Linked DNA regions of Homo sapiens: region 2 is linked to region 1. The links come from fine-mapping of genetic effects on gene expression. A gene starts in region 1. The other region holds a variant in brackets. All regions are shown on one strand. Distances are between the middles of the regions. Region 1 holds the start of PDIA4 (protein disulfide isomerase family A member 4). Region 2 overlaps PDIA4 (protein disulfide isomerase family A member 4).

Region 1 (2,900 bases):
TTGGGTAAAGGTCTCAAGACACAATTTGTAAGCAGTCCCGCTATCGGATTCCTTTCGGCAGGTGTTTTTCTCGCCGAGTGTGGGTTTTTACTTCCTTTTCTATTTGGGCAAAGACTCTTTTTGAATCAGTGACCCACGCAGAAGTTACTCAATCTGTTTGAAAGAGTATAAAGTTCACGATTTCCCTACACACTAACATTATCAAAGAGTGTATATTTATATTAGAACAAACTCAGAAGGTTAAAAAGCTAGTGATTAAAAGTAAGGGCAGAGAGGAAGAAGGTAAAGACCAGTACCTGGATGCCTTATTCTCTAGGAATAACAACTTTTCCTTAATTAGCACTTCCTAATCTTCAGAGTTCTTATGTCTGCAGCTAGCTCACTTCGAAGAAAAATGCAGGGACCATGAAGTAGTTGTTACTATTCCTACTGGAGTACGCGCTTCATGGGCAGGGACCACACTCACAATCTTTTCCTCCCAGAACCCAGTACAGGGACTGGCACACAGTAAATGCTAAATGCAGAAGGAATGGTATCTCTAGTTTCTCAAAGGTGCAAACCAAGCCATCCCTTTCTCCAGAATCTATGGATTAATCATTTCCAAATCTACAGACCACATTTTGAAAAGGAATGCTTGCTGTTCCAAAGAACTCGCACTTGTTTCTTCACGCCCTCGCCCCTTCTCTCCAGTGGCTCTCCCTCTCCCTTCCCACTGCCTGGGCGCGTTCGCCTGGAGTTAGCCTGGACCTGACGAAAATCTGTAAATTAAGGCGAAGGACCCAGCTGCAAAAAAGGCGCTCTGCAGCCCTCTCCCAGCCTCGGGTGACAGGGGTCTTCCAGGGCGTCGGAGCCCAAGAGACCCCGGCCACCTTCCTCTCCCGGGAACCCCAAATCGATCCTGCCACTGCCACAGCCACCGCCCCCGCCCCTTCAACTCCGCCAAGTTTACCCCGGGCTCGGCGCCCATCACTAGTTCTGGAGCTGACCGCGCGGAAGCCCGCCCGCCGGGGTCGCAGGGCCCAGGCCCCCGCACAGCTCTGCAGCCCCCGCAAGCACAGCCCGACCCGCGGCGCGCTTGCCGCTCACCCTCGTCCGGGCCCTCGGCACCCGCCACGGCCAGCAGCTGCACCAGCCCCAAGAGCAGCAGGAGCAGGAAGGCTTTCCGGGGCCTCATGGTAGCGGGGGCGGAGCGCGGCCTCCTAGCGTCGGCGGCCGCTGAGCGCACCGAGAACTCGGGGTCTGGCCGACAGCCCGTCGCTCCTTAGCGACGCGGGGGAGCCGGAAAAACCCACGGAAGTCGTCCCCGGCGATTGGCAGGGGGCGGAGGAAGTCGCGGGCCGGCCAATCCCAGACTGACGCCGGCACGGACCGCGCGCGCCTCGGCCGCGACGAGTCGGCTCCGCCGCCCTAGGCCCTCCCTACTCCTGCGCGCGGCCCTCGGCTGCGCGTTTAAAACTCCGAGCCCTAACGTGAGGTGCCCCCTTCTGATTGGCTGCGCCACAACCACCAATCAGCGGCTGCCACTCGGTTTGCCGGGAGCGCACAGGCCAAGAGGGAGAGCGGGGGAGAACAAAGGCGGCGGGCCGGGCACGGGGAGTGCGGGACCTGGCTACGCCTCGGGGCGCTATTGGCAATCGGTGCCGGGGGCGGGGCAGGAGAGGCGGAGCCTGGGAAATGTGGAGCGGGGCGGGGCTCGGCTCAGCATCCTGCGGCCGAACTTGGCAGTAAGAACACGTGTCGGTACCGGAGCGGTGGGGAGCAGTGGCGAGCAGGGCGGTCCTCGCAACCCGCCGGGGCTCTGGGAAGCTGGAGACCAACGCGGGCGGAGGAGCACGAGCCTGTTTGTTGCTAGAAAGGGGCTCCAAGTCCGCTGCATGTTCGTGGCCTTCTTAATTTCTTTTTCTGCTCGAGCAAATAAAAGTTTCATTTCTCTCCGGAGTATTGAGCTAGAGAGCGGGGAAGAGCATGCAGTAAAGTGAATCCAGACTAGAATCTGGGGAAGCCTCTCTCCAAGGTTGCATCTCGGAGAAACAAGCCATCAGATTCTTGTCTAAACTTTGCCTCGTCTTATTTAGTTTTCTAGTGATTTTCTGCAAAAGGAAATACCAGATAGGCAATCTAGTGGTTTACATAGATCTGAATAAAAGCTTGAGGTTTTCCCTCTTGACCACTTTGGAGAAGAAAACTAGGTTAAGATGACGATTTTTGTATGTCAGAAAAGAAGCCTGTAATGTGCATTAAGTTTGAGACTTTTTTTTAACACCTGGGAGTTTGAGAAGGCAAATAGGGAAAAGAAAAAAAATAGAAACTCAAGTTCAGGAATATTTTCTCGTGTGTGCAGATTATTACGTGAGGAAGAAAAAAGGGATAACTCACAGACCTTAGCAATTAAAAATACTTAATTTTTTTGTTGAATGCCTATTAATCTGATGGTTCCTGGTCAATTTTGTAGGGCAGAACATTATGCAACTGTACACACTGATTTATTAGAGTGCTATGAATGTGGGCCACCAGACAGTTCGGTATCATGTTATTTTATTTTTTGAGACAAGAGTCTTGCTCTGTCACCCAAGCTGGAATGCAGTGGCGCCATCTCCTCTCACTGCAACCTCCGCCTCCTGGGTTCAAGTGATTCTACTGTCTCAGCCTCCCGGGTAGGTGGGACCACAGGCGCCCGCCACCACTCCCTGCTAATTTTTATATTTTTAGTAGAGACAGGGTTTCACCACGTTGGCCTGGCTGGTCTCAAACTCCTGACCGACCTCAAGTGATCCACCCACCTCGGCCTCCCAAAGTGCTGGGATTACAGGTGTGAGCCACCGTGCCCAGCCTTAATATCATGTTAAAGATAGACCTGTTCTTCAAAAAGACAAGTCAGAGTTCTCATCTTTCTTCTTGTT
Region 2 (2,900 bases), 21 kb before region 1:
CACAAAGAGACCACTCAAGGTAGGCCTGGCTCTTGGCAGACAGGAAGGGTTATCACGGGCTGGGCTGTGTGGAACTTTCCACCTTCAGCTTGTGCGGTCTTCACGCAGGAGGTCCTGAGGGCTCACACTTCACAACGACTGGAGTCCCTCACAGACATCGCCCTCCAGGGGTGGGCAGAGCAAGGTCAGCCACCTGCCCAAGGCTGCGCAGCCAGCAAGTGGTGGGTGGGCCTGTGAGCCCAAGGGTTTCCGTGGGGATGGGATACTCAGGGAGGGGTCCTTGTGTGGCACTGAAGGACAAGAGGGCCCCGCTGGTGAGAAGGGAGCAGAAGGCACTCAGGGAGGCAGCAGAGACTGAGGCAGGGCACGAGGCACAAACAGGATCTGGCGTGACAGCACTGGAGGGTGGGATGTGCTGAAAAGGTGGGTAAGGAGGGCCTGGGAGGCCATGCTAAGGCACAGATAATCCAACTATCTCCCAGGTGGCAGGAGGCCGTGGAGTCTTTAACCATGACATGGCGCTGCGTGCACTTCACTCAGCAGGGAAACGCCAGAAGAACTGGGAGCAGCAGCAATGTGCCCAACAGACAAGACTGCATAGATCTTGAAGCGTCTACTGAAAGCTACAGACCCCTTTCCTGGAATATGCACTCACACACAGAGCTGTGTCCGATTCTCGGGATCAATGGCCCCCCAAGCTCATCAGGACCCCTCTTTGGGCCCAGGATCTTATCTCTGGATGGAAGGAAGTGAAGCTGGGGGGAGGGGTCGCAGCAGCCACTATGAGTCCAGGGAAGAGGAGAGTTGCCCTGAGCTTCAAGTTGGCAGAGAAACAGATGGGATGGACACACAGACCTTGAGAAAGAGGGACAGGACTAAAAACTGAGGAAGGAAACAGAGGACATGGGGACCAGAAAGATTCAGGGTGGTTCTCTCCAAGGTACTGCCATGTTCTGGTGCAGGCCCCCGGGATTCCTGTCCTGTCACACCCCCTGCTCCAGGTCCCATGAGAGCCCACAGCCCAAACAGCCAGGGTCCTGACACTATGGGCCAGTAGGACCTGGAAAGGCCCCTTCACCCCAATCTCAGCTCTGCTTCCCACCAGGAGCTGTGGGGTCTGGGGTGGGGGGTAGAGCTCACTTCTCTGCAGCCCAATCTCTGTTAAACCAAAGCTTCAAACTCGACATCTAAGATCCTTCCAAATCTGAGATCTACTCAC[C/T]GAAGTGCAGGGCCCCTTCTAAAGCACTCAGAAGGCTGAACTGGCCCCAGGTTCCCCTTGGGCTGGGAACTCCCACTGCCCCTCTAGGGCTGAGTGTGTCACACTCTAGGAGGATGAAGTGCAGGGGTGCAGTAATGGAAAGAAAGGCAAAATCCACCCACCAAGGTCAACAGCTCCCTCTGGTGAACAGACAGGGATGCTGTCCCTCTGTAGCCCCCAGCTGGAGCTGCCCGAACAAACACGACTTGGCCTCAACGGAGCACCATGTGCTGGCCCAGGCCAAACCCACAGTGGAACAGGCACTGGAGGGAGACTGGTGATTGCCTGCCAGGAGGGACAAAGGGTGGCAGCAACTGTTCTGGCAAAACCAAGTGGAGCTCTGCCCAGCCCCAGGACCTGCCAGGTGTGCGGGAGCCCCAGCCCTGTCCCTCCGGCAAAGAGAGACCACAGGCCGCCTGCAGAAAACCTGTGGGGTGGGGAGAACGGGCTGGAAAAGGAGTTCCAGACCCTGCAGACAAGAGCGAAACCTCCACGTTTGAAACCTCAGAGGTGGCTCAAAGCAGAGTCCTCATGCCTGCGGGGTGTCCAGGGCTGGCATGGCAGAGGGGCCCGCTTACCTGGACGTCCATCATGTGGCTCCGGGGCTCATACTTGGACTGGAATTTCTCAGGCTGCATTACAACCAACTGCCCCTGGGAGACTTTCAAGAACTTTGCTATTTCTGTGCTGAAAGTGTGGTGAAATTTGTAATCTTCTCTCAGGTTGTTAGCTGAAACGTTAACAGAATAAGATGTAATTTTGAAAATTGCCTAAATGTCTGAGATTTAATTCGTTACCCACATCAGCCAAAGCAAATGTTCTGAAAATGACCACTGTAGGCTGGGCGCGGTGGCTCACGCCTGTAATCCCAGCACACTTTGGGAAGCCCAGGCAGGTGGATCACTTGAGGTTAGGAGTTTGAGACCAGCCTGGCCAACATGGTGAATCCCTGTCTCTACTAAAAACACAAACATTAGCCGGGTGTGGTGATGCAAGCCTGTAGTCCCAACTACTTGGGAGGCTGAGGCGCAAGAATTGCTTGAACTGGGGAGGTGAGGTGGACGTTGTAGTGAGCCGAGATCACGCCACTGTGTACTTTCAGCCTGGGCGACAGAGTGAGACTGTCTTTAAAAAGAAAAAAAAAAAAGAAAAAGAAAAGAAAAAAAGTCACCACCAAAAATTGTGTGGACAATTCCTATAACTTAAACACTTGAAAGGAGGTTCGTTTTTAAAAACTTGGTACAAGGTATAACGTCTAAATCCTGGCCGGCCACAGTGGCTCACGCCTGTAATCTCAGCACTTTGTGAGGCTGAGGCAGGAGGACTGCTTAAGCCCAGGAGTTAGTTCATTTATTATTTATTTGAGACGGGGTCTTGCTCTGTCCCCCAGGCTGGAGTGAAGTGGCGTGATTTCGGCTCACTGCAGTCTCTGTTTTCCAAGTTCAAGCCAATTCTCCTTCCTGCCTCAGCCTCCCAAGTAGCTGGGACTATAGGCATATGCCATCATGCCTGGCTATGTTATGTAATTTTAGTAGAGACAGGGTTTCACCATGTTGGCCAGGCTGGTCTCGAACTCCTGACATCAAGTGACCCGCCTGTCTTGGCCTCCCCAAGTGCTGGGATTACAGGCATGAGCCACTGT

What was found.
Region 2: its variant is fine-mapped to the expression of PDIA4 in whole blood (TOPMed, PIP above 0.99).

The regions. Positions count from the first base shown.
Region 1 is chr7:149,027,235-149,030,134 of GRCh38, forward strand. PDIA4 (protein disulfide isomerase family A member 4) reads right to left here and starts at 1,271. Exons shown (of 10, transcript NM_004911.5): 1 at 1,087-1,271. The coding sequence starts at 1,174. RefSeq lists enhancers at 391-985, 986-1,579 and silencers at 904-953, 1,044-1,113, 1,184-1,763.
Region 2 is chr7:149,006,323-149,009,222 of GRCh38, forward strand. It overlaps PDIA4 (protein disulfide isomerase family A member 4), which reads right to left. Exons shown (of 10, transcript NM_004911.5): 7 at 1,837-1,988. Among named protein-coding and RNA genes, the nearest start is that of GHET1, 20 kb to the left of the region's middle. The variant C/T (reference allele first, on the strand shown) is at 1,220.